Linked DNA regions of Homo sapiens. The protein of the gene in region 4 interacts with the protein of the main gene of each other region in a pairwise test. Each region holds a gene or a part of one and is shown on either strand. Other genes may lie near its edges.

Region 1 (3,500 bases), on a different chromosome or scaffold from region 4:
GCAATTAAAATCCATCTTACCTGGTTCCAAGCCCAGCACTCTAGCAGCTGCTAGTTTCTTTGCCAACTTGGGACAATTCACATTCAGAAGCAAAGCCCAGAAATCAAAGGACCAGACCGTTGCCTCTGAGAACACACTGCTCAAAAGGCTGGATTGTTAAGCTACTGATATCTCCTGCTGATCCAACTTGTGAACAGTCAGCGGGGCTTGAAACCACCAAGAGAGATTTACTCTGGTTGGCTGACGTCCAATAATGGAGCAGACAATGGTTGAAAGCACACGTGCAGATGACCATTGAGACATGGGGATGTTTGGGAGGAGGAAGCCCATTGCCAAGATCAAGGTCTCAATCCACAACAGACTGCCACAGCTTAAATACAAGAGAGTCTGGCAAATCTCTGGATGTGGGGAAACTATGCAGTCTTTCCTCTCTCTTCAAGGACAAACGAAAGGATTCCCTGTGGCAATAAGTTACCTCAAGGACAACTACTGACTGACAAATATTTACTTTTAGTTGTGTTGCATTCTTCTCACTTTCTATAGAAAAAAAATTTCCTGGGTTTAATAGCAATTTAAGTAGACAACTGGTTAAGCAGACATACTAATGTAAAGAACAAAAGAACATATAAACTACATGTATACATAAAACACAATATTTAAGAATCAATAGTTTCAATGGGTACATGCTCCTCAAATCCCCAGACACATTATCATTAGCTTGCTTTTATTAATACAGCTACATATCAAAGGCATCAACAGACATAATCAATTTCATTTTCCTTCTACCCCTTAACCTACACAAAAGCAGTCATCTTTACATATAACAAAACCAACCAATAGGCCGGGCGCGGTGGCTCATGCCTGTAATCCTAGTACTTTGGGAGGCTGAGTCAGGTGGATTGCCTGAGCTCAAGAGTTCGAGACCAGCCTGAGAAACAAGGTGAAACCCCGTCTCTACTAAAATACAAAAAAAAAATTAGCTGGGCGTGGTGGCGTGCACCTGTAGTCCCAGCTACTCAGGAGGCTGAGGCAGGAGAACTGCTTGAACTCGGGAGGCGGAGGTTGCCGTGAGCCGAGATGGTGCCACTGCACTCCAGCCTGGGTGACAGAGTGAGACTCCGTCTCACAAAAAAAAAAAAAAAAAAGAAACCAATCAATAATTTTCGAAGAAAAAAATGAGAGATCTTTCTGAAAGTGTCTTTGCTGAGATGGACAAAGGTCTGTTTTTTCTAAGAGAACTAACTGAGCTTGGTTCTTTATTTTTTTAGAGAAAGGGTCTTGCTCTGTCACCCAGGCTAGAATGCAATGGCATGATCGAAGCTCACTGTAGCCTTGAACTCCTGGGCTCAAGGATCCTCCAGCCTCAGCCTCCTCAGTAGCTAGGACTAAAGGTGTGAGCCACCACGCCTGGCTGAGCTTGGTTCTCTTGAAGCAGTCACACTGTGAAGATTTTGAAACCCTTTACATATGCAATTATTAAACACAATCAACACAGGACAAGCTCTGGCTTACCCTCCTTGTCACTAAGCCACAAGACCCCATGGCTGGCAAAGGAACTAAGGGGGTGTCTTGTTTCCCACTGGCCCGTCCTAAGTCTGGGGTCCTTGGGGTACCTGCTGCTGTGCCTGCTGCTCCTCAATGAAATGAGAATTGGCTCTCTGGAGCTCTCGGTCCAGACGCCCATATTTATCTGTTGTTCCAGTGCTCCAGTTCTGGCTGCCACTGTCTCCCAGCAGTGCCTGTGTGAGAAGAACAACCAGAGGAGTCAGGAGAAACAAACAATTACTATCTCTGAACAAGTGATGCATCAAGAGTGATATAAAGAGTTTTCACATTTCTTGTCTATTTTCCCCTGGGCAAGGCTTTTATGTAGTGGTGTAGGTTGGTGCCTGGGTGGTACTATTTAAGGAATTCCAGGAAGGGCCCTCTATGTCTTTAAGCTCTCCCAATAGGCCTCACAATGGGCTTTGTCCCCTTAAAGTGCAAATAAACGTCTGCTAAATCAACAAACACCCATCTATATACTGTGTTATAATTGAAAAGCATTCAATCTCTTGTAAAAGAGCTCTTCCTGGTACCTGTGGAACTTCAGCAACCCATAGGTTCCAGTCAACCTGATTCCGAAGATCTAGAGTACTTTTTTAAAAAAAGTGTGACCCAGGGGAAGTTGTGGGTTTTTTTGGTGGGGGGAAAGGGAGAGTTCCCTGGAATGACAAGAAGGTAAGCCATAGCCCTTCACACACAAAGGCACAAGAACCATCAATGTCTGTTAAGTTTAACCCATGAATAGAATCCAGGGTCCTTCAGGCTTTCCAGATGACAACTGGGGGTTACTTTACAGGCAGGTATGACCACAAGGAATGCCTGACCCTGGCAACCGAGGCAAGGGCTGCCCTAAAGTCAGAGTTCTCCACCAGGGCTCCCAGACACAAGGGTCGGGTTTCCCAAGTATGAATTCAAGGAAGTTTGCAGCCATAAATGGGTATGTCTTCCTCACATGAAGAAGACAGGCAGGAATGTGAGAGTTCCATCTCAGCAGTTGGTTCTGACCAGATCCCCACAAGCCTTCCTGACTGGTCAAAGTAACTGCTCACACCAGCCCCGCAGGCAAGAGCCAGAAGACGCTAGCAACTAAGACTCTTTTTCCTTGTAGAGTTGCCAAATTTTCCTATCGGGTAATTTAAAAAAAATCTCAGGCACTATTAAAAGCCTGCCTGGTTACTTGGTTCTGTCTGAAAACCCTTCCAACAGCCCCATGACCTTCCTCCATACTGACACTGACCTCTTCTCAGACTGCGAGGGGTGAACTCCATCAAATGGCCAGACTTCAGGGGCTAGGATCAGGGAAGCTCAGTTATTAGAAGCTTTTCTTACAAGAGCTTCCAGGGGCCCAGAGCTTCAGTCCAGCTGGATGGTGACTGTCTCTGGTGTAAAGCAGATCCAAGGCTTTTTGTGGGTGGCTCTGCCCTGACCTGGTCTTAGGGCTATCAAGACTGAAAAGATCCTGCTCATTATGATCCACACTCTAAGGACCTCTATGGAAGACATGAGGAAATAGTGACAATTTTTTTAGGGTCAGAAAAATGCTATAATGCATCACTGGCCTAAGGACAGAGAACTGGGACACCACCAGGGCCTTGTGTGCTCCTGAGGTCACAGGGCTATTTTTCCTACGTTTTCCATGGTGTACACTTAGGTAGAGCTAAGTATAGGGCAAATCATCCACGTTTTATTGTGAAATAGCTTAAAGTTCATCAGTCTGATCCCAAATGTTTGTGATAATAGGATAGAGATTGAGAGAGGGCCCAAGGACTGGAAGATGCACCTGTGTGTGGGTGCCAGAGCAGGGGTGCTGGTGAGGCAAGGAGCAGCACAGAGCCTGGCACCTGGCACAACGTGGCAAGGCCCATGCCTGCTGGAGTGCTTAGAGAGCCCTGATCCTGCTATTCCTTGAAAATTTGCAACTTGACATTTCACTCATAGCCTAAAACAAAATTCCA
Region 2 (2,988 bases), on a different chromosome or scaffold from region 4:
GGTAGCCAGGAAGAAAGCTGTAACTGAAAACCAAACTAATTCATGAACCAGAGTTTCAAACATGTTATCAATGCTTGTGGGAAAACAGCGGGTACCATTTAAAGCTTTCTAACATTACAACTATTATGGATAGGTACTGAGTTGCCATTGTCTTGAAAAGATAAAGTGCTCTATTAAAACACTTCATGGCCGGGCCAGTGGCTTACGCCTATAATCCCAGCACTTTGGGAGGCAGAGATGGGTGGATCACCTGATGTTGGGAGTTTGAGGCCAGTCTGACCAACATGGAGAAACCTCGTCTCTACTAAAAATACAAAAAAAATTAGCAGGGCATGGTGGCACATGCCTGTAATCCCAGCTACTCGGGAGGCTGAGGCAGGAGAATTGCTTGAACCGGGGAGGCAGAGGTTGTGGTGAACTGAGATCACGCCACTGCACTCCAGACTGAGCAACAAGAGCGAACTCTGTCTCAAAAAAACAACAAAAGAACAAACAAAGAAACACTTCATCATCATCTACCTCGCCGAAAAGGTTTCTGGGTAAACAAACATGTTAAAATCCATTCCTGAAATATCTTCAAAAGAGAAAGACCTTTTCTTTTTCTTTTTTTTTTTTTTGTTGTTGTTGTTGTTGTTGTTGTTGAGACAGAGTCTTGCTCTGTCACCCAGGCTGGAGTACAGTGGCGTGATCTCAGCTCACTGCAACCTCCACCTCCCGGGTTCAAGCAATTCTCCTGCCTCAGCCTCCCGAGTAGCTGAGATTACAGCCATGTACAACCACATCCAGCTAATTTTTGTACTTTTAGTAGAGACAGGGTCTTGCTATGTTGGCCAGGCTGGTCTTGAACTCCTGGCCTCAAGTGATCCACCGGCCTCAGCCTCCAAAAGTGCTGAGATTACAGGCATGAGCCACCATGCCTAGCTAAGAAAGTCTTTTTCTAACCTAAATTTCTATTCAAAGAACACGCCTTGAAGGCTAGCACTGAGCTTTATTCAACTTCCCTCAGAAACACTAAGTAGCACACTTGGACCCACAGGAGACACTCATTAATGTTCAGTTAACTGAATATAAAGAAAATAGTTAATGTATCTTTTACAAGTAAGATCTGATTAATAAAAAAAAAATACTAAAAAGAAGGCTGATTGGTTTTGTTTTGTAGCATCCCATTTTGGAGAATTTGATGCCTGGAGACTAAATAATAGTCTAAGCAATAGTATTTTATTCAGAAGCATCATGTCAGCCTTTTTGGAGCTGTATCTATGAAGGGAGAGGTAGTTTTATGTAAGAGATTAGGACATCAATGCCACAATTTAAAAACAGCTTTCAAAGAAAAACTGTTTATTGATATAAAAAATAAAATGACTGACAATAAATACTTGTGAACTATTTAAATGCATATCAATAAAAATCCTAATATCACTACATCTGGCTGATACATCTAACACAACCTCATTACTAAAAATATCCCTAGCCCCTTATAAAAATAACTAAAAAAAAAAAAAAACCCCAAATCTCTCACTCTCCTTCAAATATAGAACAATTTTGTCTTCATTTATATTTTTTTCCATACACGACCAAGGCACTTTGAATAATAAATCAACTAGAGAAAATGTCCTTGGTATGGTTTTCTAAATCTTCACTGTGTATCTCTTTCAAGTGAGATGAAAGTCAAGTGTCCTGGTGACTTTAAACACACAGGTTTCCATTTTTTCTGTGGATATTCTCCCATTAAACTTAACAAGGGAAGTAGCTAAAAAAGCGTCAGCCTTGCTTTTTTAGGTTAAGTCTTAAGGCAGTGCAGAATCTAAAAGATGTTTGTGAATTAAATGAAATAATGCAAGGCTGTCTCTTTTTTAGTTATTTCCACAGCAATGTAAAAACTATGCTAAATATGCATTTAGGAGAGTTAGCAGAAAATCTGAAAATAATTCCTTGCTTTTCCTAATTCAATTTTTCTAGTAACGAGTTTTTATAGAAATATTCTTCTGAGTTGGAAGGCCTGGTAGCAGTACCATCATTTTTTATCAGGTCTTTCTAGAAAGGAATAAGTGTTGTATTCAGCCTCAACACATGCATATGGCCATTTGCCATTTGACTAAATATGTTCTAGTATATCTAGCATAGGGTATCAAAAAGATCACCTCCAATGTTTGAGTCTCTGTAACCAGGAAAAATGCCTTACTTACACAGTGACACTTTTACATCTCGTTTGTCATTGGAGACACGGTAAGCTCCATAGCCGGCCAAACATCCAACAAAAAGACCAGCAATCAAAGACGGAACACCACCTGGAAGGGGAAAAAAATATGAGATCACAAAGAGAATCCCAAAAGGAAAGGAATTCATTCCATTACTTCTAGTATGATACAGGCACCTTCAAATGTATTCCTACTTGGGCACAGTAACTGGACAAAGCCAAATTAAGAATAGGCCTCTTCATGGATACTTTCTAGGAGATGACTGTTTCCTGCTGAACCCAAATGCAAGGCAGAGGAGCCCTGAGGGCACAGCAGTGCAGTGGGGTTAGATGTCACTTGGGGAAATAAGAAAACCTGCCTTGTTCTGGTGGCTTGGACACTGATTACATGATCTTGGACAATTATTTAACTTCCTTAAGCCCTTCTTTTTTAATTTTTCCTATTCTCTTTGCCTCCTTTTTGCAATGAGGTTGTGATGATAAAAACTAAGATGCAAAGGTAGTTTTAGTTTATAGAGGTAAAGACAGAAGTGCTATACAAACCAAGCAATGGTTCCATCCTGAATAATTAACAAACCTTCATGCCTCAAGATGTCAGGACTCAAGGACTAATAGAGGCCCTACCAAGAAAGACGAAGAATCAGAATACTGACCCCAGCTACCCAGTCCCTATCCCATGCACTCACCCCACCAGTACACTCCCAGCCCCCAACCCACATACCCACCCCAGAGCACTGTGGCAAACACCAAGCACTTTCTGTGCACTGGACAGTGGGTTACATGGCAGTGAC
Region 3 (3,500 bases), on a different chromosome or scaffold from region 4:
TCAACAGATTCATGAAAAATCATAGAATAAATGATGGGTGGGACATCAGCAAGATGACTGATTAGAGTCAGCTGGTGCTCACCCGCTCCCCCCCCCCCCCACCCACCTTTCTTAGGAAAGGACTAAGGCAATGAATAAACAGCTAAGATTTGACTTCAGTGTGGGAAAGTGCTGAACTGCAGTGGGGAAGTGGAGAGGCCCCTGTGGTGACTGAAAGTCTAGGAGGGCAGCATGAAGGCCCCCAGCCTCTGTGGCCCCATCTCTTCCACCAGGACTGAGGAGGCCTGGACATATGAAGGCCTTCTCCCTGTGAGGAAAAGGTAAGCGGGAGATTCCCACCTGCCCCCACTGCCACTGCAAACACCTACAGTCCTTATTACAGGAGGATCCCCCAGTCCTTGCAAGTTCTGAGCCCAGTTTGGAGAGCTGCTGGGAATTCGTACAGTTGCACTGCCCCAGATTAGGAGCATTCCCCACTCCCCACCCACTCCATGAGCCAAGTTACTACAGCATGGCGCCATCTTTAGACCACAGCTCCCTCTGGAGTGTGCCTTCCTCTTGGGGCCAGTAGCCACTGCACCTTTCCAGCACTGGGACTCCATTTTCATGCCACCAAAGCTACACAGGTGGCTGAACTCCACAACCCAGGGCTCGGGAATGGCTGTGACTCTGGTCCTGCAATGAAGGGAAACCACCCTCTGCACTTTCAGCCACAGAAACAGTCCCACCCAGGGCAAACCCACTCTTGAGCCAACCAAACTGCTGCATACCCTCCTGCAAGCAGAAGGCCCTGAGCAACTGACAGGCTAGCAGAGTGACTACGCTCCTGCATCCCGGATCTATGAAACAGTCGGGCAGTGCAGCCCCCTACAGACATGCCCCCGGCCTGCCCAAAGGCCCCACACCTCAATCAGGGCCTGAGAAACAACCCTGCAGGCTGCCCCTGGCAGACATACCCCCAGGCCAGCCAAGTAGCCATGTGTCCATATCTCAGGCCTGAAAAACAGCCCATGGGTCACCCCTAGCGGCAACTCCCCTAGGCCAGCCGAGCAGCCTTGTGTTCATATCCCGGGTCTGAGAAGCAACTCCTCAGGCCACTCCTGGCAGACATGCCCCCGGGGCCATCAAGCAGACTTATGCCCACCTCTCATGCCTGAGAAATAGCCCTGTAGGCTGTCCCCAGCAGGCATTCCCCACAGGAGAGCTGAGCAGCAGTGTGCCCATGTCCCAAACCTGAGAAACAGCCCAACAGGCCACCTCTGGCAGGCATACTCCCAGACTGGCCAAGCAACCAAGCAACTGTGCCCTCAGCCAGAGTAAGGGCACCAACCCCAACCCCAGCAAGTGAGACCCCAAGTTGGACAACCCACCATGTGAACGCATGCATCGCTGACCTGACAAATAGCCCGGTGAACACATCCCTGGCAAAGTCATGCCACCACCACCACAAAGCCTCTCAGCTGAGGCCACTGAGACACTCACAAATGTCACTGGCATGGATTACAGTTAAAGAAACTACACAAAAACTACACTACTATGCCCACCTGGAACCAAAGCCAATGCATCCCACTGAACCAACACCCCAAGATCCATTCATACAAATATTTCTTTCCCTGCAAAACCTACCACATAAAATTGGAAGAGGCAATTATTCCACCAGATGCATAGACATCAACATAGGGATACATCGAACATGAAAAAGCAAGGAAACATGACACCTCCAAAGGAATACAATAATTCCTGTGTAATAGACCCCAATGATAGAGAAATATACAAAATGACAGAAAAAGAATTCAAAATAGTAATCTTACAGTGAGATACAAGATAATAGAGCTAGACAATTTGATGAAATCAGGAAAACAATTCATGACTTGAACAAGAAATTCAACAAGAAGATAAATACCATAAAAAAGAACAAAACAGGTATCCTGGAGTGGAAGAATTCAATGAATAAGTAAATAAGTACAAGCTAGAGCTTTACCAAAAGACTAGACCAAGCAGAATTTTATTTATTTATTTTTTTGGAGACAGGTTCTTACTCTGTCACCCAGGCTGGAGTGCAGTGGCATTATCTCAGCTCACTGCAACCTCCACCTCCTGGGCTCAAGTGATTCTCCCTCCTCAGTCCTCCTGAGTAGCTGGGACTACAGGGGCATGCCATCACATCCAGCTAATTTTTGTATTTTTTGGTAGAGATGGGGTTTCACCATGTTAGCCAGGTTGGTATCGAACTCCTAATCTCAAGTGATCTGCCCGCCTTGGCCTCCCAAAGTGCCAGGATTACAGGTGTGAGCCACCATGCGTGGCTGAATTTTTGAACTTGAAGACAGATCTTGTGAAATAACACAGAAAGATGGGGGGAAGAAAAAGTAAAATGGAATGAAGAAAGCCTACAGAATTCATGGGACACTATTAAGTGAACAAATATTCACACTGTAGGTGTTCCAGAAAGAGAAAAGAAGGGCAAATGTACAGAAAACATTGAATGAAATAGTAGCTGAAAACTTCCCAAGTCTTGGGAGCTTCCAGATCCAGGAAGCTAAAAGAATCCCAAATAGATTCCATTCAAACAGGACCCCTCTTAGGCACATTAGAGTCAAATTATCAAAAGTCAAAGACAAAGAATTCTAAAAACAGCAAGAGAAGGACTGGATGTGGTGGCTCATGCCTGTTATCCCAGTACTTTGGGAGGCCGAGGCTGGCAGATCACGATGTCAGGAGTTCAAGACCAGCCTGGCCAACATGGTGAAACTCTGTCTCTACTAAAAATACAAAAAAATTAGCTGGGCATGGTGGCAGGTGCCTGTAATCCCAGCTACTCAGGAGGCAGAGGCAGGAGAATCACTTGAACCTGGGAGGCGGAGGTTGCAGTGAGCTGAGACCACGCTACTGCACTCCAGCCTGGGCAACAGAGCAAGACTCCATCTCAAAAACAAACAAACAACAATGACAAAAAGAAACCAGCAAGAGAAAAGCATCAAATCACCTATGAGGGAGTTCCCATTAGACTAATAGCAGATTTCTCAGCAGAAATCTTACCAACCAAGAGAGAATAGGATTTTATGTTCAAAGTACTAAAAGAAAAAAAAAATCTGCCAACCAAGAATATTACATGCAGCAAAGATATCCTCCAGAAATGAAAGAGAAATAAAATCTTTCACAGACAAGCAAAAACGAAGGTAATCCATCACCACTAGACCAGTCTTACAAGAAGTGCTCAAGGGAGTATTACATCTGGAAGTGAAAAGATCATAACAGCCATTATAAAAACATGTGACACTATAAAACTCACTGGTAGAGCCAATATACAAAGGAAAAAGAGAAAGAAATCAAGCCTTATCACTTCAGAACACTACCCAACCACAAAAATAAACAGTAAGAGGAAGTAAGGAACAAAGGATATAGAAAACAGCCAGAAAACAATAAAATGACAAGATAAGTCCTCACCTATTAATAATAACCTTGAATGTAAGTGAATTAAATATCTCATTAAAAGACAT
Region 4 (3,901 bases):
AGCAACAGTGGTAAAATGTTAAAAATGGTGAACCTAAATGAAAAGTATACTGGTGTCCATCCTATTTTCTTTCACATTTTCTGTAGATTTGAAATTTTTCAAAATTAAATTTCAGGGAAAATATAATTTTAGATTTGGACAAAATGATATGAAAGCTTATCTGAAAAAAATAAACATGCAGTAACTAGAAAAAATTCCTAAAAATGAGGTATGGACTAGCAATACCCAAGACAAAAATATATAACAATTTAAAATAATTAAAAGACTCGTATTTTTTGCAACAGACTACAGAACCCAGAAGCATATCTAACCAGACATATGGAAATTTGATGTATGAATGAGGATGATGGTTTTTCCAATCAGTGTTGAAAAAGTTAATAAATGGGGTTAGAATAGATTGCTATTGGAGAGAAAAATGTTGAATCCTCTCCTCACTCTTACTACCTAGACAAATTCCAAATGAATCAAAGATTTAAAAGTTGAAAAAAAAACCTTTAAAATACTGGAAAAATACATTAAATTTATTCTTAAATGCAAAGGTGGCCTTTCTAAGCAAGGCAAAATCTCAGAAGCTGTAAAGACTAAGTTTAACTACATAAATAAAACTTAGGAAAATATTATTAAACATGACAATGGACCAATTTTCTTAGCTTACAAAAAGCTCATACAAATCAATAAAACACATACCACCTAATAGAAAACAGAACATGACTACACATTTCACAGGAAATATCAGTAATCAATAAACATGAAAATGTGTTCCATCTCCTTCATTAAAATGTACCAGACCTTCATTAAAATGCATTAGAACTTCATTAAAACGCAAGATACCATTTATTCACTTTCACATGATCAGACTTCAAAAGTTTAGTACCCAGTATTGGCATGGGTTTGGTAAATAATCATTCTCATACATTATATGTGGAAGCATACTGGGCAAAGATTTCTAGAGGACAATTTGGCAGTAACTACTGAACTGAAAATAAAAAATACCCTCTGATCCAGCAATTGTATTGCTAGGTACACTGTAGAATAAAAACTCATTATATGTACAAGTATATTCACCACAATGTGATTTAATATTGGAAACAACCTAAAGAGCCTATCAGTGTTTGAACATTTGTAACACATTCAAACATTAGAATACCACACAGCCGCTAAAAATAATGAGGTATTTTTATATATACTGATACAGAAAGATCTCATAAAACACAGGTAGCAAAAAAAGCAAGGTACAGAAGAGTATATATAGTCTGATTCTATTAATGTGAAATTTTTAAAGTACAAATTTGCTGATAAAAAATAAAAAATTGTTTTCCTGTGAGTACAAGACACTTGAAACTGGTTACTTTTGGAGAGGAGTATTAGGGTAGGAGGGAAGGGACCAAGTTTTTATACCTTTCTGTACCATCTGATCTTTTCGCCATGTGCATACATCATCTTTCTTGCCCCCACTCCCCTTTCTAAGAACACTTAATTAACAGGTTATTTTGAGATATTCCTAGGTAGGTTTGAATACCGGTGGTGTTATTTTTCAAAATACTGTAGATAAGTGCCAAGTTTTGCAATTTAGAACTTCCCCTTGGATTTTCATTAAACTTTATATTTGCTTCCTTGATGCTTTAATCATAACGATTTCCTATTAAGTATAAAGTGACACTTTCAATGGGAGTTTGGCTTTATAACAAATTTGTGATGGAATCATTAGACACTGCTGCTCAAGAACCCATTTTTACACCCCAAAGGGCATTTGATGATTTATAAACATCATCAAGATTATACATTCTATTTTGACTATTAAAAACATAAAACTGCAGTAAGATTTTACATGTACAATTAAATTATCCATTGAATTCAGTAAAACAGCATCACAGTAGAAAAATACAGTCATAAAATTAGCTCTTACATTTTTCTGGGGACAGAAAAGCAGAAGAAATGAGATTAAAAGTCCAAAAAAAAAAAGCCCAAAAAACACTACCAAAAACAGGGTGAGACAATCATTTATTTATTGGACAGGGCAAGGTCATTTAAAGATTGGAAACATATCCCAAAAACACGTGTTTAGTTTGGTGTTACAGGCATTGATGCTCACAACAAACAACATTATTCAATACATCATGTAAACAGGCCACATACAACCAGGAAGATGCTGTCAAGCCACTGAGAAGCCACAATGCTTAGAAAACAATCATTAGGGAGTTACAGAGAATAATCACCTCCAACTCATTGATATGCATATTCTGCGGCTGCACAGTATTTGGCTGGTTCCCTGGTTATTAAGTGAGTCGTTCCGTATTTTAAAGAGCCTTGATTGGTACACACTTCTGAATATCACTGAAATCAGTCAAGCAAAGGCTTAACTAGCTCACATCATATTTTTGAACTACCCTAGGCAATAATTGACTGTCTCACAGTACTGTAGATAAAATTCTGTACTTAGCATATTTAGCAGTGTTACAACGCATCCAAATCACCTTTAAGTCCTATGGTACATACTTGAAAAAGACAGCAGAAACTCACTGGAGTAAATGAAAAAAGAAATTTGGGGAGCTCACCTGGCCTGAGGTATACAAGCTGCTAGCAAAGATAGACACACGTGAAAACCACTTTGTCAATTATTTGCCAAGTCATTTGGCCTGATTTTTGGCCTGATTTTTAGCCTGATTTTTAGCAGGACTCTTCCCGACTGAGGAGGCAAAGATTTCAACATCCATTCTAGAGACTAGCCACAGTATTATAAGTAGTAATATATCATAAATGCTTGGTTATGAGGAAAAACTACTCAGCATAAGATTCACGGAGAAAAACCTGTTAGGTATCTGGCCCTCTTGCCTGAAATCTATTGATTTTACCAACCACTCCCTTTCACAGCAATAAGAGTTCTCAAGATGAGAAGAATTTTCTCACTCCATATAGAAAATCATATTTGGGAAGCCAGTCCCAAAAGACCGAATATTGTAGAATTCCATTTATATGAAATGACCAGAATAAGCAAATCTACAGAGAGAGAAATAGATTAGTGGTTGCCAGGGGCTCGGGGATGGGGTGGGCACTGGGAGAAAATGAGAGGTGACTGCTCAAGGGTACAGGGTTTCTTTTTGGGGTAACGAAATGTTCTAAAATTGACTGTGGTCACGGTTACACAACTTTGTGAATACACTAAAAACCACTAAATTGTACCCTTAAAATAAGTGAATTGTAAGGTATGTGAATTATATCTCAATAATGTTACAAACATATTAAGAAACGAAGACATACCCCAAAGAGAAGGAAACAAGAGGCTCTTCCAAACCAAATCGTACCAGAAGAAAACAGTAGCCAAGTCTGATGGAAGGAGCTTGTTTCTTGCATGCTATTTTATCATCATCACTTTAACCCGATTTCACATTTTTAATTCATTTCTAAATTATTTTAGGTTATCGGCAGATTTCTAACTTTGTTCTCATTAGAGAGCAGAGTCAGTGTTCCGCAGACAGACTGGGCTGGCGTAACAAACCAAAACTAAACAACAATAAAAACCCAATGAAAAATAATCTCATGCTTTGGGGCTATGTGTTACCAGTCAGAAGAGAAGAGCTGATGTCCATTTCTAAAGGAAAATAAAATGCCTACAAGTACAATGGCATCTTATGACTCATGCCTAAAGCACATTTCCTTTTCAAACCTGCATACAGTTATTCCCTTTTTACACCTATACAATTCAACAAAAGCAATGTTTTTATACCTGTACAATCCAAAAAAAGCAACGTTCTCTACAAAGAAATGTTGAGCTTCCTACAGCTCTCTAGCTCAAAGAGCTAGCCAATTTCCTTAAAAGTAAAATTACTGTTTCTAAAAATATCAACTCTGTATCCTCATCCTCACTTTCAGCAACATACAGTGAAGATGGAAAACTTGAAGA

The links. The genes of interacting proteins can lie anywhere in the genome.
Region 1: the proteins of MMGT1 (region 4) and STX6 interact in binary tests that used the Homo sapiens proteins (3 or more experiments, as listed by UniProt).
Region 2: the proteins of MMGT1 (region 4) and TMEM14A interact in binary tests that used the Homo sapiens proteins (3 or more experiments, as listed by UniProt).
Region 3: the proteins of MMGT1 (region 4) and STX8 interact in binary tests that used the Homo sapiens proteins (3 or more experiments, as listed by UniProt).

Annotation. Positions count from the first base shown.
Region 1 is NC_000001.11:180,988,371-180,991,870, forward strand, and holds part of STX6 (syntaxin-6), read right to left. Parts: intron 1,740-3,500; coding exon 1,614-1,739; intron 1-1,613. UniProt on the Homo sapiens protein: SNARE promoting movement of transport vesicles to target membranes. Targets endosomes to the trans-Golgi network, and may therefore function in retrograde trafficking.
Region 2 is NC_000006.12:52,681,113-52,684,100, reverse strand, and holds part of TMEM14A (transmembrane protein 14A), read right to left. Parts: intron 2,289-2,988; coding exon 2,187-2,288; intron 24-2,186; coding exon 1-23. UniProt on the Homo sapiens protein: Inhibits apoptosis via negative regulation of the mitochondrial outer membrane permeabilization involved in apoptotic signaling pathway.
Region 3 is NC_000017.11:9,506,321-9,509,820, forward strand, and holds part of STX8 (syntaxin-8), read right to left. Parts: intron 1-3,500. UniProt on the Homo sapiens protein: Vesicle trafficking protein that functions in the early secretory pathway, possibly by mediating retrograde transport from cis-Golgi membranes to the ER.
Region 4 is NC_000023.11:135,960,088-135,963,988, forward strand, and holds the end of MMGT1 (ER membrane protein complex subunit 5), read right to left. Parts: 3' UTR 501-3,901; downstream 1-500. UniProt on the Homo sapiens protein: Part of the endoplasmic reticulum membrane protein complex (EMC) that enables the energy-independent insertion into endoplasmic reticulum membranes of newly synthesized membrane proteins.